4 linked regions of the Homo sapiens genome follow. The protein of the gene in region 4 interacts with the protein of the main gene of each other region in a biochemical or structural test. Each region holds a gene or a part of one and is shown on either strand. Other genes may lie near its edges. The genes, in order: TGFBR1, ELN, LYZ and CLU.

Evidence for each region.
Region 1: the proteins of CLU (region 4) and TGFBR1 form a complex in vitro, tested with the Homo sapiens proteins (one study listed by BioGRID).
Region 2: the proteins of CLU (region 4) and ELN form a complex in vitro, tested with the Homo sapiens proteins (one study listed by BioGRID).
Region 3: the proteins of CLU (region 4) and LYZ form a complex in vitro, tested with the Homo sapiens proteins (one study listed by BioGRID).

The regions. Positions count from the first base shown.
Region 1 is NC_000009.12:99,100,904-99,108,124, reverse strand, and holds the start of TGFBR1 (TGF-beta receptor type-1 isoform 1 precursor), read right to left. Parts: upstream 3,013-7,221; 5' UTR 2,920-3,012; coding exon 2,823-2,919; intron 2,551-2,822; exon of another isoform or gene 2,528-2,550; intron 2,312-2,527; exon of another isoform or gene 2,094-2,311; intron 1,090-2,093; exon of another isoform or gene 985-1,089; intron 1-984. UniProt on the Homo sapiens protein: Transmembrane serine/threonine kinase forming with the TGF-beta type II serine/threonine kinase receptor, TGFBR2, the non-promiscuous receptor for the TGF-beta cytokines TGFB1, TGFB2 and TGFB3.
Region 2 is NC_000007.14:74,045,168-74,052,193, reverse strand, and holds part of ELN (elastin isoform a precursor), read right to left. Parts: intron 6,973-7,026; coding exon 6,901-6,972; intron 6,007-6,900; coding exon 5,977-6,006; intron 5,499-5,976; coding exon 5,427-5,498; intron 4,520-5,426; coding exon 4,478-4,519; intron 4,053-4,477; coding exon 3,993-4,052; intron 3,692-3,992; coding exon 3,638-3,691; intron 445-3,637; coding exon 355-444; intron 271-354; coding exon 211-270; intron 1-210. UniProt on the Homo sapiens protein: Major structural protein of tissues such as aorta and nuchal ligament, which must expand rapidly and recover completely.
Region 3 is NC_000012.12:69,344,546-69,351,398, forward strand, and holds the start of LYZ (lysozyme C precursor), read left to right. Parts: upstream 1-3,835; 5' UTR 3,836-3,863; coding exon 3,864-3,999; intron 4,000-5,562; coding exon 5,563-5,727; intron 5,728-6,853. UniProt on the Homo sapiens protein: Lysozymes have primarily a bacteriolytic function; those in tissues and body fluids are associated with the monocyte-macrophage system and enhance the activity of immunoagents.
Region 4 is NC_000008.11:27,597,697-27,604,722, reverse strand, and holds part of CLU (clusterin isoform 1 preproprotein), read left to right. Parts: intron 1-327; coding exon 328-432; intron 433-4,713; coding exon 4,714-4,943; intron 4,944-6,087; coding exon 6,088-6,263; intron 6,264-6,472; coding exon 6,473-6,482; 3' UTR 6,483-7,026.

The sequences.
Region 1 (7,221 bases), on a different chromosome or scaffold from region 4:
ATAGAAATCAACAAGCATTTATGTGGAATAGAATATAAAACACAGTGCTAAGTTCTGAGGCCACAAAAGAAAGAAATGGCATGAATCTTGTCCTCTGGGTACCTATAACGCATTCAAGTAGAGTTAAGTAGCAGCACAGGCAGTAGAAATGGACAACACAAACTGTTAAGTGTTGCAGAGTTCTGGAAGACAAAGAATTCAAGAACTAAACCAGCACAGGAAGTCAGGGCTGAGAACTTCTCGCACTCCCAAAAAAAGGGGCAAAACTAAATGTGTAGTGAAAAGGCTGAACAGTCAGGAGTCAGTGAGAAAGAGAAATTGCTCGAAGGTCTGCAGTAATGAGAAATGAGATCCCTGGTAGGATACTCAGAGATGGCCCCAATCATAAGCTGCTAAGTGTTGTTCTAAGTGCTGAATACAAATGGGAAATCTTATAAACCTTCACGGGGAAGGCTGAGGAAGATTAGTTTGGCAGTAGCCATAGAAAAGCCTAGATGAGAAAAACATGGGAAAGCAACTAGATTTGGAGGATAACAGGCAGGATTAAGCTGAAGGCTGCATACCAAGAAAGGAGGAGACATTCAAGAGGCATTCATAGAAGAGTTGGATTGGGGGCACGTTTTCAAAGAAAAAAAGTTATGAAATGGCAGAAAGGAAGCAAATAGCATTCTCAGATGGGATATACATATAGACATAGTGGTACTAAACTGTGCACTAGGGATAAGGAATCAATTTCCCTAGAGAAACCTATGTTGGAGACAGAAGTTGGGCAGAGAACATTAAAACATACTCAGAACATAAAAAGGTGCAAGTCTTTAAAAGGGAAGCCAAGTTACAGAGGAAATAAAAAGCATTTGACCTTTTTCAGAATGTTTTTTAAGGGTGGACTGAGGCATCATCATAACCAACAGGGGAGGCAGACAAGCTGAGGCAGTCTGGGCTTAGAGTAATAAGCACCTGGACAGCTTTGTATTTTGTGCATACCATGGAGACTGTAAACTCCTCCAGGACATGGACTGAGCAATGTTCTGTGTCTTCAACTAAGTCCACTACTGTTACTTGAATACATGAACGCTTCTTGTGCTACTTCTGGTGGAAAAGAGTGCACTGTGTTATTCAAGTTAATAGCGGTGTGGAAATGTTACCTGTGTTTCATGCCTAACTATACTGATTCTCCCAAATGTCCACACAGTTATCCTGCCTTCCTCCCTAGGCCAATGTCAAAAATCCATTGTTTCCTCTAATGCAGGCCCACGTGAAGGGACTCAACAATGTGCTAAGAGTCGGAATGAAGCCTATCTGATACTCAAATCATGAGGACAGAATCCAAAGTGGATAATAAAGACCAATTGCTCATCAGACGACTGAAGAAGAAAAATGGGCTACGCCAGATAGTATGATGTATACATATTTATATATATATATGACATACAGGTTTGGGAAACTGAGATCTGAGTGAAAATCCTAGCTTTAGCACTTAAGTTATTGGGTACTTAACGTGTCTGTACCCCACTTTGCACATCTGTAAAGTGGGGCAAATGCCACTACTCCTGGGAGTTTACTTGTGGTGATTAAATAATGTAATTATACAATAGTGTATGCATTTACATCGTAGTAATGCACAATACATAGACGGTAGCTATTAGGACTGATTATAATCGTCACCGTCAGTCTTGATTTTTTAAAAAAATTTCAACATCTTTTGTCCAGTTTCAGAAACAGAAATGTACTTTCACTGCATTTTAGTTGCTAACACTGAGGCTGTGTATTTTAGCTTCTAGTGTCTCAGTTCAGCTGCTAACGAAGTTTTTCACTCATCCCTTTGTGGATACCAACCACCTACCCCAACCTGATTTACTATTTTGAAAAATCCAGCCAACAGTCTTCCTTGAAAACCAGCTATACAGATGTCTGAATCAAACTATTAACTGTCACTCAAGAAAAGGAACAACGTGAGTGATGTTCCTTCGAGGAAATAAAAAGCGTTTAATCAATTCACAGTCGTTCCCAAAATTTCCAAAACCCGCAGAATGAGCAAACGTTCAAGTTTCCACTATGAAAACAATCCGTAGCCGTCTGGTTACTGGACTCACTTCAACACTCCCCAGACGCACGAAAGAAGAAACATTCCGCGCATCTCCGCGCTTCCTTCTTCTCACACAAAGCCCCCCTGGCTGGAGGAGCAGCCCCTTCCAGCAGGGTCGGCTCGGGTCGAGCCGGGCGGGAGTCAGGGCGGCCTGCGGACCCAGGGGTCTCACCACACGTCGCCCCCGACTCCCACTGGACGAAGCCCTAGAGGCTCGGAGCTCACACCCCGCCCGGGAGCCGCCTTCCACCCCAACCTCAAACCCCGCCCCGGGTTCGGCAGCCTCTGGCACGGACCCTCTTGGGGCGGGGGTCCCCAGAACAAGGTCACGCCGTGCCCAGGGGGCGGCGGCGGGCAGCCACGGCTCTGCCAGTCCCCGCCGGCCTCGCACTCTCCGCCCCTGGCCCTCGCCCACTCACACCCCAGAGGGCAGCCCCGGACCTCGGACGACTCCGCCCGACTCCACCTCCCCGGGGAGTCCCGAGCGGGGCGGCCTCGGGCAGCCGGACACGTCCGCCCGCGCCCGGACACACGCCCCTGCCCCGCCTCCGCTCCCCGCTTGCGGTTCGCCCGGCAGCCGCCGAGCCGCGCGGCGCCACGAGAGCCCGGCCCGGGCCCCGGCGCCGCCACCTGCGCCCCCGGCCCCGCGCCATGTTTGAGAAAGAGCAGGAGCGAGCCAGAGGCCGGGTCCGGCCCGCGCGCCCCGCAGTCGCCCGCCCGCCGCGCCGCCGCTCACCCGTCGCCCCCGGGAGCAGCGCCGCCGCCGCCGCCGCCGCCGCCGCCAGCACGAGGAGGAGCAGCCGGGGACGCGGAGCAGCGACCGCCGCCTCCATGGTCCCGCCGCCACCGCCTGTGGCCCGGCCCGGCCCGGCCGCGCCGCTGCCTCACCCCAGCAAACCTCGCCTCGCCCCACCTCCCTAGCCGCCGCGGCGGCCTCGCTCCGGCCCTTTGTAACTGCTCGGAGGACGCGCGTCCATTGGCTGCCGGGCTCCCGCCGGCCCCGCCTCCCCGCCGCCGCGAGCTGCCAAGCGGGACCCAGCCGGGAGCCCCGCCTGCGGGCCCGCCAGGCAGCCAATCCGCAGCCGCGAGCGCCGGTTTCTGGCCACGCCCCACGCTCCCCGGGGGCTGGGCCGCCAGACCCCAGCCCCGGCCCGATCGGCTCCCGGCTCCGAGAGGCCGCGTGGGGGCGGGGTCTGCCAGCCCCAGCACCGCTCAGCCGCTAGCCCCGGAGGGCCGGGTAGAGCGATGGGTGTGTCTGTGTGAGTCTCTTTCGGAAAAAGGCTGTGGCCGTTCGACGCTCTTTTCTTCTAACCTCCTCTAGGCGCGGAAGATCTGGTACTGCCTCAGCCCCACCCTGACCCCATTCACAGCTCCGCATTGGCAATCCCAGCACATGCCACCCAGATCCGCTGCAGCGCCAGGCCCCTGCATCCACTTCAACTTCCCCTCTCCAAGTCCACGCATCAACTTCAGCATTCCCCCGAAGATCCCTCCTCAGTGCCCTTCACATGCGACTCACTCTCCTATTTCCTCCTGCTCCCAGCGGTCACCCCAAACCCAGCTCCCCCACCCAGTTCCAAACCCAGAAAGTCCTCAGATCCCAGCGTCAGACCCAGATCCTGAGCCCAAACACACCCCCAAATAGCCTCCCGCCTCCCTCCAGCACAGATCCAGGATGGGGATCCAAGCCGCACTCCTCTCAAACCCCTTCCCGATCCAGGTTGGAAAGGGAGGATCCCCACCCCAACCCCTCAAAGGAGGGGTTCCCCCTTCTTAGCACCCAGCTCCCGCGGGGCGGAGGGGGAGCAGTCATCATTACTTTGAGCTGTGTCTGACACTGCTGTATAATAATCCTGAGGTGTCACTAAAAACCCAAATAAACTCTACGTTTTCATTCTGAATTCCTAATTTACTGCGAGACGCTCCACCCACCTTCCCTCTGCGACGCCAAAATGAGCTCCAGATTTGTAATTCTTCCTGTCAGACTAGTCCTTTCTTCAGACACAAACACAGCCAAGGAGGCTGTTACGTAGAACAGAGAATATTTTTCCGCAGAACCTTTTAAGGAGGAAATTTTATTTTCTGTGTCATTTGAGCTTAGAATTAAATAAACCTTGATAGCAGGAATCAGAATGGTTCTGATTAATGCCAATTTGTGCACTACTTTAGAGTCACTGGGTGAGCATTTTCCCCACCTGTGAAGGCTTCCTTCCGGGAGATGAAAAGGGAAAAGGCGTGGATATTGGAGCTGGGATCTGAGACCCGCGCGCTTTCTCCCTCCTGTCTAGGACACTTACTTAAGCAAGTCAGCTAACCTTTCTGAACCTCCAACAGGCTCAGAGGCCTGCAACTTGCTCTACACCGCAGCTCCAGCAGCCTCAGCAGCAAACTCCCCTCTTGCTCAGGCTGAGGGATTCCAGAGAGATGGCTTCTGGCAGGCTCCAGTCCCAATTTGCCCTCTCAGTTCCAGTTTCTTCAATGGAGATTTGGTGGACTTTGTGCCACCTGAGGTCCCTAGACTGCCTTTTTGCTGCTCTATTTGCAATGTCTTTCATAAGATAAGAGCTAATGAGATTTTTATTGTATGAATGAATGAATGATCTCAGAAAGTGACTGTTTTTCTCTGGCCATTAGCTTCTTCATCTCTAAAATGTAAATAATAATAGTACCTACCCCGTTTATAAATAAAAGGGATTGAATCACTTGTCTTGGGCCCCTTAAATGACGTAATGTGTCTGGTACAGTGTCTGGAACATAGTAAATATTTAGCTAATGCCATTTCTTTGCCCATCCCCTTCCAGCTCTGTATGATTCTAATCAGCATGTATGTTCATGTCAGTCTGTGCCTTTGACGTACGGAGCCTAGATTAATCAGTGTTAATCACACCTCCAGTTCCTTAACATTTTCCGTGGAATTCAGTGGATACAATAGGAAGGAAAAACAGACTATTTTTAAGTTGTATCTTCCTGATACTAGGAGGAAATTTCCATGAGCCACAGATCCATAAATAAACTACACTAGAATGGAACACTAAATTATTAGTTTAAAATCATGGTTCCCAAATTGTAAAGTCTCTCCAATTACCTGGAGAGCTTGTAATAATACAGATTCCTGGGTCTCCCTCGGCCCTAGCAAGTCTGCTTCAGTTCATGTGGAGAAGGTTCAGGAATCTGCATTTGTAATAGACATCCCAGGTGATTCTGCTGCAAGTGGCACTGGGCCCGCTTCAAAAGACACTGCTTTACTTAAAATTCAGTAAATAAAAATGCATGACCTTATTTGCCTTTTGAGAAAGGTTGGATGGGCAGTAGAAAGAAGCCTCTGGCTTTGGAGGCCTACAGACCCGACTTGAAATTCTGGCTGCCACTCACTAGATGTGGGTCTGGGAACACTATTTGACTGCTTTGAGATTTAGCATCCCCCAGGGTAAAGGGAGATACTGTTGTGAGGTCTAAATGAGCTATTGCACATTAAGGAATCTGTCATAAATGTTAATTCCCTTCAGTCTTTACAGACTTACTTGTTGTTTAAAATGCTTACATGTTATTTACTCCAATGTCTTAATTTAAAGGGAAGGAAACTGAGGATCAGTTCCCCAGCAAGTCAGCTGCAGAGCTAGGACTAGGAGTCTCACTCCAGTGCCTTGTACCCTGTGTAATGTTGTCTCTTAATCTTTATGCCAAGGACATTGTTTGCTTTTCCTTTTGGATTAGTTCCTTAAGTAAGAGGATTTCTCCAAAATAGAGAGCAGAGACTGCTTGTCATCTAAACTACACCCATTCTTACATTTGCTTTATAATGGAGTCCTGTTTTTCTTTGGGAAAGCAGATCACCTAGAAAAAATATATATGTCAATTTCCCAGGCTCCTTGTACCTAGGTATGGCCATGTGACAAGAGTTCTGGCCAGTGACATGTAAACAGAAATCTACTTTCCACAAGGCGGAGCCTGTACAAAAGATACTTCCTAGTTAAAAAAAGAAGAGACTCATCATATTCTCTCTTTCTCCCTGGAACACAGTTGCAATGCCTGGAGGTACAGCAGCCATTTTGTAAACATAAAGGCGATAGCCAAAACTGAGGACTGTAGAGAGAAAAAATGGAGAGAGTCTAGGTTTTTGATAAATTTCCTGAACAGTTGCACCAGCTCTATAATGCCTATTTCTTATTATATGAGAAAAATTAATCTATTTTTTATTCACTTTGAATAACTGCACCAGCTCCATAATGCTTATTTCTTATTATATGAGAAAAATTAATCTATTTTTATTCACCTTAGAATGCTTCTATTCTGCTCATTTGTCCATCCTATTTATTGTTGCATATTTTATTTCTATCTTATTTTCTAACCTACAAGACATTATTGACTTCTGCCATTATTAGCTATTGCTAATTCTTGGTGCTCCTAACTGAAAAACAAACCACCTCAAAATTTAGTGGCTTAGAATAATAACCATATATCATCTTTCATGAGACTGTAGGACAGTTTTTCAGGTTTAGGCCAATTTATGCTGATTTCCACTGAGCTCACTTATGAGTCGGTTGTCAGGTGGAAGGGGGTGGAAGAGGGTAATGAGCTAGATCAGCTCCTCCATGTGGATTTTCATCCTCCAGCAGGCTAGCCTAGGCTTGATAACATGACATTCATTATCCAAGATAATGAATGAAAGCGTGCAAGAGCCTTGAGTCTAGGTTTAGAACTGGCACCGGCCAGGCATGGTGGCCCATGCCTGTAATCCCAGCGCTTTGGGAGGCCAAGATGGGGCGATGGCTTGAGCCCAGGAGTTTGAGGCCAGCCTGGTTAACATGGCAAAACCACTTATCTACAAAAAATACAAAAATTAGCCAGGCATAGTGGTTCACACCTGTAGTCTCAGCTACTCAGGAAGCTGAGAGGTTGGAGGATCGCTTGAGCCCAGAAAGTCAACGCTGCAGTGAGCCATGATTACACCACTGCACTCCAGCCTGGGTGACAAGAGTGAAACCCTGTCTCAAAAACAAAACAAAACAAAAAAACATCCACTGGCACAACATCACTTCTACCATATCCCATTGGTTTGGGCATGAACTGGGGCTGAGCCCAAATTCAAAGGGTGGGGAAAAAGACTCCATTTTTTTTGATAAAAAGGAACTGCA
Region 2 (7,026 bases), on a different chromosome or scaffold from region 4:
CAGGGTCCCCTCCCTCTGCTGAGTTAATCAGGGCAAAACAATAGAGATGGCATCTCAGGTAGAGTGATCAGAAGGGGCAAAGGTAAGGAGGCATGAACAATGCATATTTGGGAAGGAACAAAGGCCAAGTCCATCTGGCTTTGCGGCTAGGGTCTCCGAGGTCTATGCAGGGGCCCGAGCCGTGGACTTGCCACCCCGGGAGGCACTCACCATACTTGGCTGCCTTAGCGGCTGCTGCTGCAGCTGCAGCTGCAGCTGGAGTCCCAACGCCTGAAAACACAGCCACAGAGGGTGAGGTCCTTGCCCTGTGGCCATCTCAAGGACACACCCGCCCCCTGCTGGGACAGATGTTACCTGCGATGCCTCCAATTCCAGGAATTGCCCCAGGCACGCCAGGAACACCAGCCCCTCCAACACCAGGGAGGACTCCGGCTGCTCCAGCACCTGTTGAGATGGGGACAGTGCAATGTAGTTTCCCAAGGACCCTCCTGAGGACAGGCAGGATGGCCACTTAGACGCCGGCGTTTTCACCAGTGTGATCTTATCCAGGAATGGGGCCCGGGTGTCTCCAGATGGGCCTGTCTGGGGAGGCCCCCACCCCACTCCACTGTTCCTTGACTCTCCCCCAAAGTGTCCATTTCAACACACTCATTAAGGGACTTGTATGTTTTCAGACAAATCCCATTCTAATCACTGCCACATACTGAGAAACCACAAGTGGCCGCTCCCTGGGCCAGAGGGTCCCCTGCAGGAATGTTCAAGACTTCCTCTCCCTGTGTTCCGAAGATGCAGCCAAGTTTGTAATCCAAGCGCCTGGCTGCTTGGCTCTGGCAGCCCCTCACAGCCCTGCTCTCCCGCTCCCACATTGCAGCCGTCCCCACCAGCCGCTGGGGCCAAGGAGCCTCGGGTGCTGGGAGGGGGGCCTGCGGGGCCTCCACTGGGAGGCCCAGCTTCAGGCTTCTCCCCACATTCTCGCTCTCTCGGGCTGGTGGGGAGATAAGGAAAGGGCTTCCCTGGGGCTGAGGATGAAGGAGGACTTCAGCCCTAGTGGTCTGACCCTGAGGTGGGCACTACCTGGGGCAGGGGACAGATGCCCACTCCACCCACTGCACGGGCACAGGAATACCACGTTCCATCTGCAGCCATGCTAGCCAAGAACTCACTGACCTGAGCAGTGAGTTAACATTTTTATAGTACACATTAAATTGATACATAACTATTAAATATTTTAAATGCTTATATATGCACCACCTAAAATTATCTTTCTAACCACCGTGGTACCCATTCCCTCTGCTTGGCCTCCTCTTTCCTGTTTTAACCACATGGTAAGCTCCATCTTTATTTTTAAGGCCTAAATCACATGTCACTTTCTCTGGGAAGCCTTTCTAACTTTCCTCAGGTAGAAAAAAATGCCTCCCGTTTCTTGACTCCCACAACAGTGGCTATATTCTCTAAGAGAACTCTTGTTTGTCCCTGATCTCTGATATGGATGGGTGGGAGGAGGCAGTGAGGGAGGGAAGGAAGGAGGCATGGATGAATGCATGGAGGAAAGAATGAATGAATGAATGAATGAATGAATGAATGAATGCATGGGTGAATGGATGGATGGGTGCATGGATGCATGGAGGAATGGATGGATGGATGGATGCATGCATGGAGAAATGGATGGATGGGTGCATGGAGGAATGGATGGAGGGATGCACGGAAGAATGGGCAGATGGATGGATGGATGGATGGAAGAATCAATGGAGGGAGTGATGGATAGATGGATTGATGGATGGATGGATGGATGGATGGATGGACGAGTGGATGGATGGGTAAATGGATGGATGGATGAGTGGATGGATGAATGGATGGATGGATAGATGGATGCATGGAGGAATGGATGCATGGAGGAATGGATGGATGAGTGGATGGATAGAGGGAAGAATGGATGAATGAGTGGATGGATAGAGGGAAGAATGGATGGAAGGAAGAATTGATGGGTAGATGGATGGATGGATGGATAGATGGGTGAGTGGATGGATGGATGGATGGATGGATGGATGGATGGAAGGATGCATGGAGAAATGGATGGATGGGTGGATGGATGCATGGAGGAATAGATGGATGGATGGATGGATGGATGAATGGATGGAAGGATGGATGCATGCATGGAGAAATGGATGGGTGGGTGCATGGAGGAATGGATGGAGGGATGCATGGAAGAATGGGCAGATGGATGGATGGAAGAATCGATGGAGGGAGTGATGGATGGGTGGATTGATGTATGGATTGATGTATGGATGGATGGATGGATGGATTGAGTGGATGGATGGGTAAATGGATGGATGGATGAGTGGATGGATGAATGGATGGATGGATAGATGGATGCATGGAGGAATGGATGCATGGAGGAATGGATGGATGAGTGGACGGATAGAGGGAAGAATGGATGGATGAGTGGATGGATAGAGGGAAGAATGGATGGAGGGAAGAATTGATGGGTGGATGGATGGATGGAAGGATGAATGCATGGAGGAATGGATGGATGGATGAATGGATGCATGGAGGAATAGATGGTGGATGGATGGATGGAAGGATGGATGGAAGGATGGATGCATGCATGGAGAAATGGATGGATGGGTGCCTAGAGGAATGGATGGAGGGATAGATGGATGCATGGAGGAATGGTTGGATGGATGAATGGGTATATGGGGGAATAGATGGATAGATGGTGGATGGATGAATGGAGCGAGGGAGTGATGGATGGATAAATGGATGGATGGATGAGGGGATGGATGGATGGGTGCATAGATGGATGGATGCATGGAGGAATGGATGGATGCGTGGATGGATGGATGGAAGAATGGATGGAGGGAGGGATTGATGGATGGAAGAATGGATGGAGGGAGGGATTGATGGATGGATGAATGGGTGGATAAGTGGATGGATGGATGGATAGATGGCTGCATGGAGGAATGGAGGATGGATGAATGGAGGGAGGTAGTGATGGATGGGTGGATGAATGGATAGATGGATGAGTGGGTGGATGGATAAATGGATGGATGGATGTGTGGACAGATGGATGGATAGATGGATCCATGGAGAAATGGATGGATGGATGGATGGATGGATGGATGGATAGATGGATGGATGAATGGATGGAGGGAGAGATGGATGGATGAATGAGTGGATGGATGAGTGGATGGATGGATGGATGCATGGATGTGTAAATAAGTAGATGAATGGATAGATAAGTGGATGGATGGATAGATGGATGCATGGAGGAATGGATGGATGGATGGATGAATGGATGGAGGGAGAGATGGATGGATGAATGAATGGACGGATGAGTGGATGGATGCATGGATGGGCAGATGAGTACATGAATGGATGGATGGATAGATGGATGCATGGAGGAATGGGAATGGATGGAGGGAGGGATGGAGAAAGTAATAGATTGATGGAAGGATGAATGGATACATGGATGCATGGAAGAATGGTTGGAGGGAGGGATAGATAGATGGGTGATGTTGAAAATTTTGAGTAAATGGGGGTATGTAGGGGCCACTTTGGAGGCAGGCTGTCAATAGTAATGGGAATGGAGAGGCTAGGGGCCTGGAGGCCACCAGGTGGGGACTCCAGGGGCACTCACCGAACTTTGCTGCTGCTTTAGCTGCCGCTGCTGCTGCTGCCTGGGGGCCAACCCCTGGGGGAAGGAAGCAGAGGGGAGAGACCTTGAAACAGTGCTCCTGTATCTCCAGAGCCCACTTGTTCCCAGCCCCAAGAGAGCCAATCCACTGACATGTGGGTATACATGGGAGCTTCAGAGTAGGCAGAGGCTGATGGAGCTGCCCCACTCCTCCCCCAGGATCCTGCTCCAGGTTTGGACCAGGGTCTGGATGCAGGGTGGGCTGCTGCTTTCAGGAGGGAACCTCACCCACCCCAGGGCTCTGGAGCCTGGAAGATCAGTGCTCCCTTGGCTGGAAGTGACGTGAGGCTTTCCTTACCTGTCCCTGTTGGGTAACCAGCCTTGCCCGCTGCACCAGCCACTCCTCCGGGCCCATAGCCTGCAAAACAGAGAGGCTTGATGGTCATCTGTGCAGACATCACCACTGCTGCCCTCCCCCTCCCCCTGCTCTGCCCTCGGGGCCCAAGCTGTCCTGAGTCTGCACCTGTCACCCCCAGCCAGAGTGAAAACAAATACAAACACATGTATGGAGTTGTTATGTCCATTTTACAGATGAGAACACAGAGGCTCAAAGAAGCAACACAGCTCACTTAAGGTCTCATTATTGATAGGTGGGAGGGCAGGGATGGAGACCCATGCTGAGTCCAAATTCCATGCCCTTTCCTTCTGAGATTCCCACTCCAAGACCCCAACCCTGCCCCAGCGAGGTGCTCTCCTGGCCCAGGGCTGGAAGCACAGCACCCTTGCTAGGACCCTGGAGAGGGAAAGAGCTGGAAGCCCACAGTCTAGAAGGGTCTCACTCACCATAGGGCAGTTTCCCTGTGGTGTAGGGCAGTCCATAGCCACCTGGAGAGAGGACAGAGCAAACTCAGGGGCTGCCCCATGCCTTGCTGGGCTCCCACCAACCTGGGTGGACAGATCTACCCCCACAGGTGCTAAAGCTTGAGACCTCCCACATCAGGGTCCTGAGCTGCTCCCAGGAGAGCAAAGGCGCTGGGTGAAGGAGGGAGAGGACACCTCTGCCCCCGAGGCCCATGGAACACCCATCCCCCTACAAATTCAAGCCCCATCATGGCCCTGGAGTCTGAGTATTTTCCTTACACCCCCTCCTCAGTGGAAAGCATCTTATTGTCTAAGCTGATTGCAGAGGTAGGGGCGGGAGCACGAGTGGGTGGATGTTAGAGGGATCTTTCCAATGAACCGTGTTCCTTTCCACCAGCCTAATAGCTTCAGATCGGGACTATGGGTCTCTGTGCATGAGCGTGTGTGTGTGAGTTCAATACCTGCAGATGACTTTCCCATGCTCTCCTTGGCTGGTGACCATACAGGGGCTTCAACACCCCTTCCCTGCCACCAGAGACACCTGTACCCAGGCTGACTTCTGTGCAGGGAGGTGCAGTGAGTGGTACATTTTTTTTTTCTTCTTTTTCTTTTTTTGGAGGAGAGTCTCACTCTGTTACCCAGGCTGGAGTGCAGTAGCGCGATCTCAGTTCACTGCAACCTCTGCCTTCTGGGTTCAAGAGATTCTCCTGCCTCAGCCTCCCCAGTAGCTGGGATTATAGGCCTATGCCACCACACCTGGCTAATTTTTGTATCTTTAGTAGGGACGGGGTTTTGCCATGTTGGCCAGGCTAGTCTTGAACTCCTGACCTCAAGTGATCTGCCCGCCTTAGCCTCCCAAAGTGCTGGGATTACAGGTGTGAACCACCACACCCGGCCGAGTGGTGCATCTTGAACCGTCCCTCTGACTTACCAGGCAGCTTGGGGGCCTTGATGGGATACCCCAGTGGGACTCCAGGTTGCGGTCCCCCAAAGGGTCCAACTCCTGTGGGAATAAAGAGAGCAAGTTCAGGTCCCAGCACCCCCTTCCAAACCCTCCGCCACCCACTCCACTTTCTGCTCAGACAGAAGGAGCTTGCTACAGCATCCAGAAACCATCCTGCTTCGAGGGACTCCCTGAATCTCCATCATGGGTCAGTTGAGAAATTCCCAGTGACAGGCCACTTCCTCCAGGAAGCTACGGGATTCTCTCCCTCCTGGGGCCTGGGCCCCAGTTTGGGCCTGCAGCCCTTGGCACAGGCTGGAGGGTTTTCTGGACTCCTTTGAATTTTGGGCTGCTATGCCAGTGGGGGGAGCAGGCCTGGGATGGGTGCCACTTTGTGCTACAGCCACTGCAAGACCTGGCTCTGCAGGCGTGGGAGAAATTGGGCAGGCTTGGATGGGATCTTGGGTGCCCAACCCCTCCCAACGCCAGAGCCTCTGCCTGGCTGGCCACCCTGCTTCTCCCACCAGCCTTGCCTCACCTGGGATTCCAGCAAAAGCTCCACCTACACCTGTAATGATAAAAAGCTGTCACTACAGCCCTGGAACTGTGGACACTGGGCCAGACAGCACCAAGGGGCCAGGAGGCCCAAGGAATGGCCAGTTCTTCCCAGACCAGTCATCGCATGCTGCGCTCACATGAACTCTGGGGTTTCTTTTTTCGGAGATGGAGTTTCGCTCTTGTCGCCCAGGCTGGGGTGGAATGGGGTGATCTCAACTCACCGCAACCTCTGCCTCCCAGGTTCTGGCGATTCTCCCGCCTCAGCCTCCCAAGTAGCTGGGATTACAGGTGCAGGCCACCACGCCCAGCTAATTTTTGTATTATTAGTAGAGACAGGGCTTCACCGTGTTGGTCAGGCTGACCTCAGGTGATCCGCCCACCTCGGCCTCCCAAAGTGCTGGGATTACAGGCATGAGCCACTGCATCTGGCCCTCTTTTCTTTCTTTCTTATTTTGCGGGGGAACGGGGTCTCTGTTGCCCAGGCTGGAGTGCAGTGGTGTGATCATAGCTCACGACAACCTTGATCTCCTGGGCTCAAGAGATCCTCCTGTCTTAGCCTCCTGAATAGTTGGGATCATAGGTGTGTGTGACCATGTCCGGCTAATTTTTTAATCATGTTTTTGTAGAGATAAGGTCTTGCTATGTTGCCCAGGCTGGTCTTTAACTCCTGGGCTCAAGCGATCCTCCCAGCTCACCCTCCCAAAATACTGGGATTACAGGTGTGAGCCAGTGTGCCCAGCCACACTCTGAGGTTTTTCAGCACCAGGCTGCCCAGGGCTGGAACATAAAAAGTGTCACCCAGAGGGCCCTGAGCCAGTCCAGGATCCCACCCCATTTCACACCCGGGGCCAGAAGGTGGTTGGAGAGTCCCTGCCATCAGCCCTCTGTCCAGACAGCTGCATACCTGGAGCCTTGGGCTTAACTCCTGCTCCAGTGGGAACTCCAGGGAGCACCCCCACACCGGGGAACCGAGCTCCTGCCGGGGGACAAAGCAGTGAGTGTAGGAAGGCAGGCCTTGCAGGCCCTGCTG
Region 3 (6,853 bases), on a different chromosome or scaffold from region 4:
AAATCAAAGCTGAAAAAACATAATTGCACTGCTTCACTCCAGTCTGGACAACAGAGTGAGACCCTGTGATATAGTTTGGTTATTTGTGCCCATCCAAATCTCCTGTTGAATTATAATCCCCAGTGTTGGAGGTGGGGCCTGGTGGGAGGTGTTTGGGTCATGGGCGCAGATCCCTCGTGGCTTGGTGCTGTCCTGGTGATAGTGAGTGAGTTCTCACGAGATCTGGTTGTTGTAAAGTGTGGCCCCCGCCAACCCCCGGCAACTCTCTTGCTCCTGCTCCACCACGTGAAATACCTGTTCCTCCTTCACCTTCCTCCATAATTGTAAGCTCCCTGAGGCCTCTCCAGAAGCAGATGCTGGTGCCATGCTTCCTGAACAGCCTGCAGAACCATGAGCCAATTAAATCTCTTTTCTTATAAATTACCCAGTGTCAGGTATTTCTTTATAACAACATAAGAATGGCCTAACAGAGCTGCGTGCAGTAGCTCCTGCTTGTAATCCAAGCATTTTGGGAGGCTGAGGCAGGAGGATTGCTTAAGTCCAAGAGTCCAAGACCAGCCTGGGCAACACAGCAAGACTGTGTTTCTACTAAAAATTTAAAAAGTTGGCCAGGTGTGGTGGCACACACCTGTGGTCCCAGCTACTCGCCTGTGGTCCCAGCTACTTGGAAGGCTGAGGCAGGAGGATTGCTTGAGCCCAGGAGTTCACGCTGCAGTGAGCCAAGATTGTGCCCTTGCACTCTAGCCTGGGCAACAGAGCAAGACCCTGTCTCCAAAACAACAAAACAAAACAAAACTGGCCTAACACCCTATCTAAAAACAAAACAAAACAGAGGGCTATAGCACATTCTTTAGAATATCTTAAATTATGGCAAATCTCCATCTTTTCAGGATGGTTTTAGTTTTGGGGAATAGTCAAAAGTGTGAGAAACCCTTGGTCAAATTCCCTTTCCTAGGCCTGAAGCCCCCAACACTCACCATAAATAATTATTTTTCTCTATCTTGAGAAACAAATAAGTTGAGTAAATCATGACTATTGCCCATTGTAATACAACAAAGTAATCTAGGGTCTGTAAGCAACTTTCCTAAAAAGATAAAATGCATACATTGCATCAAAAAGAACATGCAGTACATACAAAATTTCTGAGGAAGAAAAATTATCTCTGCCCTCAAATCATGCTTACTTGCTATTTTATTTTTAAATAGATTGCTCATTAAACCTACCTCAAATGGAATGACAGGATTATAAATGGATGTTATAACTGCCCTTAACTTCTTCCCCAGGGGAGATAATTAAGGGGATCAAAAACACTTCTTCCCTTTGCAGTAGTCACATGATAACATGCTATCACTTTGGTTCAGGTTGGCAAGCAAATATTTGCTTGTTCCACTTCCAAGAAAGTATAAGGTCATAACTATTTAAACATTTGAAAACAAAAATTAATCTTATCAGCATAAGGCTGAAACCAGCATATGTAATAACTGGCTGTTCTTTAGTATTGAGTTGGGAACGGCATAAAGGGGACCAAAGACTAACTCTTTTTTTCCTTCTTTCTTTCTTTTTTTTATTTTTGAGACACAGTCTCACTCTAGTTGCCCAGGCTGCAGTGCAGTGGTACGATCTCAGCTAACTGCAGCCTCAACCTCCTGGGTTCAGGTGATCCTCTGACCCTCAACCTCCCGAGTAGCTGGGACTACAAGCACATTTTTAAATTTTTTTTTATTTTTAGTAAATATAGGGTTTTGCCATGTTGCCCAGGCTGGTCTCCAACTCCTGGTCTCAAGCAGTCCTCCTGCCTCGGCCTCCCATAGTGCTGGAAATACAGGCATGAGCCACTGCGCCCAGCCAAGACTAACTCTTTTAATTGGTTTCTGTCTCTTTGGGTCCTGAAAATCTGTCTCACTATTTATTATTATTATTATTATTATTATTATTTGAGACAGAGTCTCACTCTCTTTCCCAGGCTGGAGTGCAATGGCACAATCTCGGCTCACTGCAACCTCCGCCTCCTCGGTTCAAGCGATTCTCCTGCCTCAGCATCCCAGGTAGCTGGGATTATAGGCACCCACCACCACACCCAACTAATTTTTCTATTTTTCGTAGAGACGGGGTTTCACCATGCTGGCCAGGCTGGTCTCGAACTCCTGACCTCAGGTGATCAGCCTGCCTTGGGCTTTCAAAGTGCTGGGATTACAGGCATGAGCCACCGCAGCTGGCCATTTTTTTTTTCTTTCTTTTTTTTTTTTTTTTTTTTGAGACAGAGTCTCACTCTGTTGCCCAGGCTGGAGTGCAGTGGTGTGATCTCAGTTCACCACAACCTCCGCCTCCCGGGTTCAAGTAATTCTCCTGCCTCAGCCTCCCAAGTAGCTGGAATTATAGGCGCACCACCACGCCCAGCTAATTTTGTATTTTTAGTAGAGACGGAGTTTCACCATGTTGGCCAGGCTGGTCTTGAACGCCTGACCTCAGGTGATCCACCCACCTCAGCCTCCCAAAGTGCTGGGATTACAGGCATGAGCCACTGCACCTGGCCCTATTTATTATTGAAGAATCAAAATTAGGCCTAGCCTGAAAAATGAGATTATTCTTGATTTTTGAACAGGGTCCTTGAACTGTCATTTAAAACCAAATCTGGTAATCTTTAGAGGCCACTGATGAAAAATAAGGGTAACTACAAAGTGATGACACTTTGTGTGGCTCAGAATCTGTCCTCTTAGGCAGATACAGAAGTGCAGTTCTTTTTGAGTTCTGGTAGCATTGTTTTAAAAGCTGTGCACAGCCTCCTGAGATTGCTATTTTCAAAGGTAGCATTTAGTTGGATATATGTTTGGGTAGGTTTTATTTTTAAAATGCTGTTGCTTTCTAATGACCCCTTATGTTCTAATATGGAAAGGGGAGGCAAAGTATTGTGAAAAGTAGTTGGTAAAGTAGGCCGGATGTGGTGGCTCACACCTGTAATCCCAGCACTTTGGAAGGCCGAGGCGGGCGGATCACGAGGTCAAGAGATCCAGACCATCCTGGCCACATGGTGAAACCCTGTCTCTACTAAAAATACAAAAATTAGCTGGGCATGGTGGTACATGCCTGTAGTCCCAGCTACCTGGGAGGCTGAGGCAGGAGAATTGCTTGAACCCGGGAGGCAGAGGTTGCAATGAACTGAGATTGCGCCACTGCACTCCAGCCTGGTGACAGAGTAAGACTCCATCTCAAAAAAAAAAAAAAAAAGGTAGTTGGTAAAGTTGTTCACATGAACCTTATTTATAATAGTAAAACACTGATTTATAATAATAAAAAATTTGCTATAGTAACAAAAAGAGTCTAGAGTAAGAAACTAGCTGAGCAACGTGGTGTCACACTATACACCCATTAAGACAACAGGCACATGTGTCATGTCCATTTTGTGGAAAAGATATGTAAAATAATTTTAAGTAAAAAAGATAAATATAAAAAAGTGAATGCATACAAAACAATTTCACAAAATTGAATGTTACTCAAAAATCACAGCTCATTTTAAGCTGCACAAAATAGTCATTTTTTTCTTTATAATTGCTCAAATTCATAATCAAACAGAAGAAAGTTCCTGTCTTGGAAGTAGTGCTATGCCCCAATTCTTCCAGAGCCAGTACTTTAAACAATTCCATTTCATTATTTTCCTGTAGACTAATTCTTAGGACATCAGCATATCTCTCTTCAAGCATTAAAAAAATCTCTTTAGAGTCAGTGGATCAATAGACAGTTCCTGTTTTCCACACAACTGAAAGGGTGGAGCCCCCAAACCACAAGGGGAAGAAGGAAGTTAAAAGATGTTAAATACTGGGGCCAGCTCACCCTGGTCAGCCTAGCACTCTGACCTAGCAGTCAACATGAAGGCTCTCATTGTTCTGGGGCTTGTCCTCCTTTCTGTTACGGTCCAGGGCAAGGTCTTTGAAAGGTGTGAGTTGGCCAGAACTCTGAAAAGATTGGGAATGGATGGCTACAGGGGAATCAGCCTAGCAAACTGTAAGTCTACTCTCCATAATTCCAGAGAATTAGCTACGTATGGAACAGACACTAGGAGAGAAGGAAGAAGAAGAAGGGGCTTTGAGTGAATAGATGTTTTATTTCTTTGTGGGTTTGTATACTTACAATGGCTAAAAACATCAGTTTGGTTCTTTATAACCAGAGATACCCGATAAAGGAATACGGGCATGGCAGGGGAAAATTCCATTCTAAGTAAAACAGGACCTGTTGTACTGTTCTAGTGCTAGGAAGTTTGCTGGGTGCCTGAGATTCAATGGCACATGTAAGCTGACTGAAAGATACATTTGAGGACCTGGCAGAGCTCTCTCAAGTCCTTGGTATGTGACTCCAGTTATTTCCCATTTTGAACTTGGGCTCTGAGAGCCTAGAGTGATGCAGTATTTTTCTTGTCTTCAAGTCCCCTGCCGTGATGTGGGATTTTTATTTTTATTTTTATTTTATTTTATTTTATTTTTAAAGACAGTCTCACTGTGTGGCCCAGGCTGGAGTGCAGTGGCATGATCTCAGCTCACTGCAACCTCTGCCTTCTGGGCTCAAGTGATTCTCGTGCTTCAGCCTTCTGAGTAGCTGTGACTACAGGTGTGTACCACCACACCCAGCTAATTTTTTGTATTTTCAGTACAGATGGGGTTTCACCATGTTGGCCAAGCTGGTCTTGAACTCCTGGCCTCAAATGATCTGCCCACCTCAGCCTCCCAAAGTGGTAGGATTACAGGTGTGAACCACTGCACCCAGCCGACATGGGATTTTTAACAGTGATGTTTTTAAAGAATATATTGAATTCCCTACACAAGAGCAGTAGGAACCTAGTTCCCTTCAGTCACTCTTTGTATAGGATCCCAGAAACTCAGCATGAAATGTTTTATTATTTTTATCTACTCTACTTGATTAACTATCTTTCATTTTCTCCCACACAATTCAAGATGTGCCATGAGGAAAAGTTATTTTATAGTTTAGTACATAGTTGTCGATGTAATAATCTCTGTAGTTTTCAGATTGAATTCAGACATTTCCCCTCAATAGCTATTTTTGAATGAATGAGTGAAGGGATGAAATCACGGAATAGTCTTGTTTTCAAGATTCTAACTTGATATCCAAATTCACCTTTAGATATTATAAGAAAATTTCTATCAGAAAATCCTTATGTTTTTCTGATTAAAAAAAGCATTTTTCCATCAGCCTATGTATCTGCTATGAATTTACAAAATCTACTCAACAGCTCTGTTGATTTTTCTGTTCTTGGCTGAATGTTGCCTGAGGGATGGGAGCACGGGAAGGGTAAAAGCAATGGAACAAACATGTATTTTAATATTTTAAAAGTATGTTATATTGTTCGTTGGTGTTACAAGATGATTTGCATTACAAAAGGATTCTCTTACAAGTCCCTTATCTTAACACTAAAGTGCTAAGATATTTTATAAGTAAATCTTTATACTTATAAAACAAATCAGTAAAATAGAAGTAGCTAAGTAGAACTGATTTTGCTATAGAGTATAAGTCACTTAGTGTTGCTGTTTATTACTAAAAATAAGTTCTTTTCAGGGATGTGTTTGGCCAAATGGGAGAGTGGTTACAACACACGAGCTACAAACTACAATGCTGGAGACAGAAGCACTGATTATGGGATATTTCAGATCAATAGCCGCTACTGGTGTAATGATGGCAAAACCCCAGGAGCAGTTAATGCCTGTCATTTATCCTGCAGTGGTAAGACAAGCTAATATTTGACCAATCTGGTTATACTTACAAGAATTGAGACTCAATACAAATGAAAAAGCCTTGAAAGGTTCATGAGGGACCTAGAAAAACTACATCTCAACTTCCAGAAAGTCATTATTATTTTCCTCATAATTCCCTGAGTAAGAAATTAAAGAAGTGGTATCATAAAAGGTTGATGTTTTTTAATATACAGAAGTTTCTGGAATGACCTATTAATTTACTGTCAATGGCCTTACTGATGCTTTGTCCAGAACAATGCCATTGCTCCTGCTTACTTTGGGGAGGTTTTGGGATAATTTAGTTGTATGGTCCTTTTTCAATTGTTTTACTTTTTTTTTTATGAAATGTTCTAAATGTATAGAAAATTAGAGACATTAGTATAATAAACAGCCATATGCCCATTATGCACTTTAAAAGTTGTTAACATTTTGCCATAGTTGCTTCTTCTATGCCTTTTTTTTTTTTTTTTTTTTTTTTTTTTTTTTGCTGAGAGTTTTTTGTTTGGTTTTGTTTTGTTTTATTTTGAGACAGGGTCTCCCTGTCCCCAGGCTGTAGTGCAGTGGCACCATCACAGCTCACTGCAGCCTCAAGTGATCATCCCACCACAGCCTCCCAAGTAGCTGGGACTACAGGTGTGCACCACCATGCCTGGCAAATTTTTGAAATTTTTAGTACAGGCAAATTCTGTGTTGCCCAGGCTGGTCTTGAACTCCTGAGTTCAAGCAATCTTCCCACCTCAGCCTCCTTAAGTGCTGGAATTACAGGCGTTAGCCACTGTACCTGGCTACTGCTGAGAGACTTTTAAGTGAATTAGGAACATGATGATATTCCATTTCTAAATTCTTTAGTTTACATCTTCAAAAAATACAGTTCCTGTAGAATTATTATTGTAAATAACAAATTAACTTAAGGATTTATTTATTTGGAGTGAAACAAATATTTTACTGAACTCATAAAAATAGAAATACCATGTGGAATCCTCAGTGTCAAAAATATTGCAGAAATCTTGCAAAGTTGATATTATTAAATTGTTAAATATTAAAATTCCCAATAAAGAACATTAATCTTATTTCTAAAATCCAGTTAATTAAAAAAATTTATATTATATAATAAT
Region 4 (7,026 bases):
AGGATCATTTGAGGCCAGGAGTTTGAGACCAGCCTGGCCAAGATAGTGAGACCCTGTCTCTACAAAAATAAAAACTTAAAAAATTAGCCGGGTGTGGTGGTGCACACCTGTAGTCTCAGCTACTCGGGAGGCTGAGGCAAGAGAGTCACCTGAGCCTGGAAGTTGGAGGCTGCAGTGAGCTATGATTGCACCATTGCATTCCAGCCTGGGCAACAGAGTGAGACCCTGTCTGTAAATTAAAAAATAAATAAAAATAACAATAGGAATCAGTGGAGTCCATCTCTGCATGGCTGGATGACTGACTCTTCTTCCCTCGTGTGTCCCCAGAAGGCGACGATGACCGGACTGTGTGCCGGGAGATCCGCCACAACTCCACGGGCTGCCTGCGGATGAAGGACCAGTGTGACAAGTGCCGGGAGATCTTGTCTGTGGGTGAGTCGGGGTCCAGACCACAAGCCGTCCCCCCTGATCCCTTGTGTCCTGGGGTCACTGGGGCCTCACTGGTGCTGCCTTTATGGAGTCAGACAGATAAGCGTTTGGATTCCAGCTCTGCAGCCTTTGAGCTGTGTCCCGGGGCAGGTCCTGAGCCTCATGCAGCTTCGGTTCCTCATCTTAGAATGAGATGATGATGCGAGGCTGTCCCTGAAGTCGGTGAGATGTCGTTAGAGATGCAAAAGTGCCCTCCACCTGGTCGGCCCCATGTTGAAAAAAGCTTGTTGAAAAAAGTCATCCCCCTGGGACTCCCCGGTGATTCTGTTCCCAAGCGCCAAGCGCAGTAGGCATCTTCATTTTCCTCTGCAGATTATGACATTGCAGACAGTATGTGTTTTGTTTAACAAAACTGACCAGAGGCCAGGCACTGTTCTAAACACTCGACATACATTTCCTCATTTCCTCAGAATGACCCTCTGAGGAAACTGAGCCACAGAAAGGTTAATAACTTATCCAAGATTGACCCCGACATGGGCGAGCTGGGCTTCAATCCTAGGGCGCTGTGTTCTCTCCTGGGGCCCCTCGCAGCCTCTGGCCACAGAAGTCACGGGTCTCAGTACCTGGGCATCCAAGCAATAGTCCCTTTGGTCGGTTGGTTGGTCCCCTAGGCAAAGGGAATATTTCCCTTTAACTGTCCCCCTCCGTTTCACCAGCTCTGGTTATGGGTTAACTTCTTTCCACTTAGAGATAACAGCTGTGACAGTATTTGGACTAGTTCCTGGTACACAGCAGTTCATACTCACAAAGAGTTAATTGTTTCCCCTTGTCAACAGCTTATCGATCTGGTGGCTTTGCTCTTACTTAATGCTTAGTTTGAGTTTGCCATGGCAGGCCGCCAGGGTCTAGTTAAACATTCCTAGCCTCACTCCTATAATTTTAGAAGCCACTGCAAAATAAACAGTTGTGCTTTAACAGGCTGAAGTATAAGTTGCTGTAGATGAGTGCACAACCAGGCCTTGGGGCTTTTTCTATAAAAAATATCATAGAGTGGCATCAATTACATGGTACCTCACCACAAGAAAGTCATGTTAGGGTCTGAGAAAAGATGTCCAGATGCCTGTGCCCAGATTGGACCTCTTATGCTGATTTTTACTCTGTTGCCCAGGCTGGGCTCAGGTCTGGCGCCAATCTTAACAGTCATTGATTACAGTTGAGAGTGCAGCCAGCGCCAGTCTTATCAGTCATTGATTATAGCTGGCGTACAGTGGCTCTATCTCGGCTCACTGCGACCTCCGCCTCCTGGGTTCAAGTGATTCTCCTGCCTCAGCCTCCCAAGTAGCTGGGAGTGCAGGTGTGCACCACCACACCCAGCTAATTTTTGTATTTTTAGTAGAGACAGCATTTCACTATGTTGGCCAGGCTGGTCTTGAACTCCTGACCTCAAGTAATCTGCCCGCCTCGGCCTCCCAAAGTTCTGGGATTACAGGTGTGAGCCACTGTGCCTGACCTGAGATAGATTCTTAGAGAATTATTGGTAAGAATAATTCTCTAAGCTGAGCTAAATAGTCTACACTGAAGAGGACTGCCTACTGTTATTTAAGGTGCTTGCAACCATATAAGCACGTACTGCCTGGGAACTCTAGATGAGGATTTCTCAATTTCAGCGCTGTTGATTTTTTTTTTTTTTTTTGAGACAGGGTCTCTCTCTATCACCCAGCCTGGAGTGCAGTGGCACCATTACAGCTCACTGCAGCCTAGACCTCTTGGGCTGAAGTCATCCTCCTGCCTCAGCCTCCTGAGTAACAGACTACAGGTGTGCTCCACCATGCTTGGCTAATTTTTTTATTTTTAGTAGAGATGGGGTCTTGCTACATTGCCCAAGCTGGTCTCTAACTCCTGGGCTCAAGTGATCCTCCTACCTCAGCCTCCCAGAGTGCTGGGATTACAGGTGTGAGCAGTGCTGACATTTTGGACCAGGTCATTCTTTGTCGTTGGGGGCTGTCCTGAGCAGTTCAGGGTGTTTGGCAGCATTCCTGGCCTCTGCCCACTAGAGGTCAGCAGCTCCCTTCCCTTTGTTGTGACAACCAGCTTCAGAACTTGCTAAATCTCCCTGGGTGACAGCGTCACCCCAGTAGAGAACCTCTATTCTAGACTAAGCCTCAGCTCTCAAGGATTTTTCTTATTTTATTATTATTTTTTTAAGACAGGGTCTCGCTCTATCACCCAGGCTGGAGCGTAGTGGCGCAATCTTTGCTCACTGCAACCTCTGCTTCCTGGGTTCAAGCGATTCTCCTGCCCCAGCCTCCTGAGTAGCTGGGATTACAGGCGTGCACCGCCACGCCTGGCTAATTTTTATATTTTTAGTAGAGACAGGGTTTCACCATATTGGCCAGGCTGGTCTCAAACTCTTGACCTCAAGTGATCAGCCTGCCTCAGCCTCCCAAAGTGCTGGGATTACAGGTGTGAGCTAGTTTTTCTTATTTTTAAATTTTTTTTTGGTAAAATAATGAAGTTTATTTATTACATATTTATTTTCAAACTGGCATCTTGTTAGTAATTCTGTTTCTTTCCCCACCTAACATTTTGTTTACTATAAATGATTGCAGTCATCATCCTAAAGCATATGCAAAATCTCCCTTCCCCTGACTCACGTTTGATGTACCTGCCTCTGGATATTTTTGAAATACCTTAGGGGGAGAAAAACAGTAGTTTTAAGAGCTAGTGGACAGTTTCCAGGTCTTAATGAATCTGACAACCTGCAGCCCAGGGCCAAGAGGAATGAATTCTCTTTTCCCTGCTCTCTTGATGAACTCACTGACCAGCCATGGGCGGGCAGGTGGGCAGGCAAGGACCCCTGGCCACCAGGTGCCAGTGCATCAGCTGCATGAACTCCTGGCACCAGAACTGCCACCTCTACAGACATGCTCAAAAGACAAGTTTGGACCGGGTGCATTGGCTCACACCTGTAATCCCAGCACCTTGAGAGGCCGAGGTGGGTGGACCCCTGAGGTCAGGAGTTTGAGACCAGCCTAGCCAACATGGTGAAACCCTGTCTCTCCTAAAAATACAAAAAAATCACCCGGGGGTGGTGGCAGGCACCTGTAATCCCAACTACTCTGGAGGCTGAGGCAGGAGAATTGCTTGAACCCGGGAGGTGGAGGTTGCAGTGAGCTGAGCTCGCGCCATTGCACTCCAGCCTGGGAAACAAGAGCGAAATTCTGTCTCAAAAAAAAGACAAGCTTGGAGGATTGTCCAGAACCACAGATCCAGGGTAGGAAAAGCCCAAGCTTAGGAGCTGAAGACCCTGGTTCAATCCCGGGCCCAGAGATCATTTATTCTATGGCTTTAGGTAAGCTATTTATTGATACTTCTGTGGGCCTCAGTTTCATTATTGGTAAAAATTATTTCATTATTGGTAAAATTAGGACTTAAGTCCTAATCCTTAAGTCAGAACAGATCCAATTCTTAGAGAAAAAGGATATCCAGAGAGAACTTTCTGCGGTGTCTGGGACGAAGGCAGTGCCACACGAATGGCAGCTGTGAGTAATATTCCTCCTCTCTGGAAATGATTCCCGGGAGGGACTAGGGCAACGAGAGCCACTCCAGGTCTGAGAACATGGAGAACTTGAGATCAGTGCTTTTGGAAGTGTGGTCAACACAGTTTGTCACCAAAGAGATAAGGGTCTGGCACCCAAAGATAAATCAATGATGTTACGAAGCACACTGTTTAGGTCAGTTGGCGTATTTTTCCAGAGCAAGGCTTCTCAGGCTGGGCGTGGTGGCTCACACCAGTAATCCCAGCACTTTTTGGGCAGATGGGTTGAGCCCAGGAGTTCGAGACCAGCCTGGACAACACAGAGAAACCCCGTGTCTACAAAAAATACAAAAATTAGCTGGGCATGGTAGCATGTGCCTATAGTCCCAGCTACTCAGGAGGCTGAGGTTGGAGGACAGCCTGAGCCTGGGAAGTCAAGGCTGCAGTGAGCCGAGATCTCACCACTGTATTCCAGCCTAGGCAACAGAGCAAAACTCTGTCTCAAAAAAACAAAAACAAAAACAAAAAACCCAAAAGACTTTCTGGATGACGGAAGCAGTGTCTAGATTCACATTCTGAGGCAAAACCTTTATTTTGTCGTGGACAATTCCAGTTTGTGGCCCTTCCCTTAGGGAAGCACTGCTTTTGTTCCCGCTGCATGTGCTAACTTCCATTCATTCATGGTTCTATCCCTTTGTAGCCTTCCCTTCACACTTCTCACTTGCGTTTCTTCCATCTCTGGGCAGACTGTTCCACCAACAACCCCTCCCAGGCTAAGCTGCGGCGGGAGCTCGACGAATCCCTCCAGGTCGCTGAGAGGTTGACCAGGAAATACAACGAGCTGCTAAAGTCCTACCAGTGGAAGATGCTCAACACCTCCTCCTTGCTGGAGCAGCTGAACGAGCAGTTTAACTGGGTGTCCCGGCTGGCAAACCTCACGCAAGGCGAAGACCAGTACTATCTGCGGGTCACCACGGTGAGCTGTGTCCCGGCCACATGCTGTGGCTCGGGAGCCCGAGCTGTGATCGGGAGCAGGGGCATGTGTGCTTTTGACTGAGCATTTATCACACGGCAGAAAATAGAAAACTTTAGGCGCCCCTGTTGCCTTGAAGCCTCATCACCCACTCAGGGAAAATATAACCCTGCTTTACAAAGGAGCAAAGTAAGAGAGGTTCCACAGCTTGGCCAAGGTGTGATAGCTGACAGATGACTTGGACGGGTATTTGAACCTGACTGCCTGGCTGCCAAGCCTGTATTTTGTTGTTGTTGTTTTTGTTTTGGTGCACAAATCTGTGAATAAACCAGAAGCCTCTGTTCTTTTCTCAAAGCTACAAGGCTGCCCTCTGGCATGTAAAATGGCTTATGAATTAGTACATCACTCTCTGCCAGTGATAAAAACTTCTCTCTAGGCCAGACATGGTGGCTCATGCCTGTAATCCCAGCACTTTGGGAGGCAGAGGCAAGAGGATTGCTTGAGGCCAGGAATTTGAGACCAGCCTGGGCAACACAGCAAGATTCCCTCTCTACAAAAAATACAAAAATCAGTCAGGTGTGGTGGCACACACTTGTAGTCCCAGCTATTCAGGAGGCTGAGGTGGGAGGATTGCCTGAGCCCTGAAGTGGAGGCTGCAGTGAGCTGTGATCACGCCACTGCACTCCAGCCTGGGTGACAGAGTGAGACTCTGTCTCTTAAAAAATATATATATATAAAATAATAAAATAAAGTTAAAAAATCAAATAAAACTTATTTCTAGTACTGGGAACTCTTCTTTTTCTTTTCTTTCTTCCCTCCAGGCCCTCTGGATTCCTTTTCTACCCTACTCTGACCAAGGGCTGCTTCTAAAGCAAATGTTTGGAAACCACTTTTATTCTTTGGGGTGCTCCCTGGGCTGGTCATTTGCAGATGACATTTGCCCCAACACATGAGTGTCTGTGAACCAGGTCCGTTCTGTCCACTGAGCTGTACTTACGTCTAGATGTATAAGAAGCATGGGGTCAGCTCTCTAGGTTTCCTTGGAGAAGCAGGAGGACTTCCTTATCAGAAGCCTGACTTCTGTTGCAGAGCGCATGCATTTTGACCACAGTGTTTCAGCTCTTCCCTTTTCTCTTGTTCCATTTAGGTGGCTTCCCACACTTCTGACTCGGACGTTCCTTCCGGTGTCACTGAGGTGGTCGTGAAGCTCTTTGACTCTGATCCCATCACTGTGACGGTCCCTGTAGAAGTCTCCAGGAAGAACCCTAAATTTATGGAGACCGTGGCGGAGAAAGCGCTGCAGGAATACCGCAAAAAGCACCGGTAAGCAGGCGGGCCTTTCCTGCGGGCCTGCAGGGCCCAGTGAGTCTCTGGGAGCCACAAAAAAACAAACAAAGTGCAGACTCTATAGCCTGGTGGGAACGACTCCGCCCGGAGCCAGAGCCCAAGAACAAAGCCAGGAAGTTACGGGGGAATTTTATTTTTCCTTTGGAGGATGTTTTACTTTGGAGGATAACTGTTTTTTATTTCAGGGAGGAGTGAGATGTGGATGTTGCTTTTGCACCTACGGGGGCATCTGAGTCCAGCTCCCCCCAAGATGAGCTGCAGCCCCCCAGAGAGAGCTCTGCACGTCACCAAGTAACCAGGCCCCAGCCTCCAGGCCCCCAACTCCGCCCAGCCTCTCCCCGCTCTGGATCCTGCACTCTAACACTCGACTCTGCTGCTCATGGGAAGAACAGAATTGCTCCTGCATGCAACTAATTCAATAAAACTGTCTTGTGAGCTGATCGCTTGGAGGGTCCTCTTTTTATGTTGAGTTGCTGCTTCCCGGCATGCCTTCATTTTGCTATGGGGGGCAGGCAGGGGGGATGGAAAATAAGTAGAAACAAAAAAGCAGTGGCTAAGATGGTATAGGGACTGTCATACCAGTGAAGAATAAAAGGGTGAAGAATAAAAGGGATATGATGACAAGGTTGATCCACTTCAAGAATTGCTTGCTTTCAGGAAGAGAGATGTGTTTCAACAAGCCAACTAAAATATATTGCTGCAAATGGAAGCTTTTCTGTTCTATTATAAAACTGTCGAT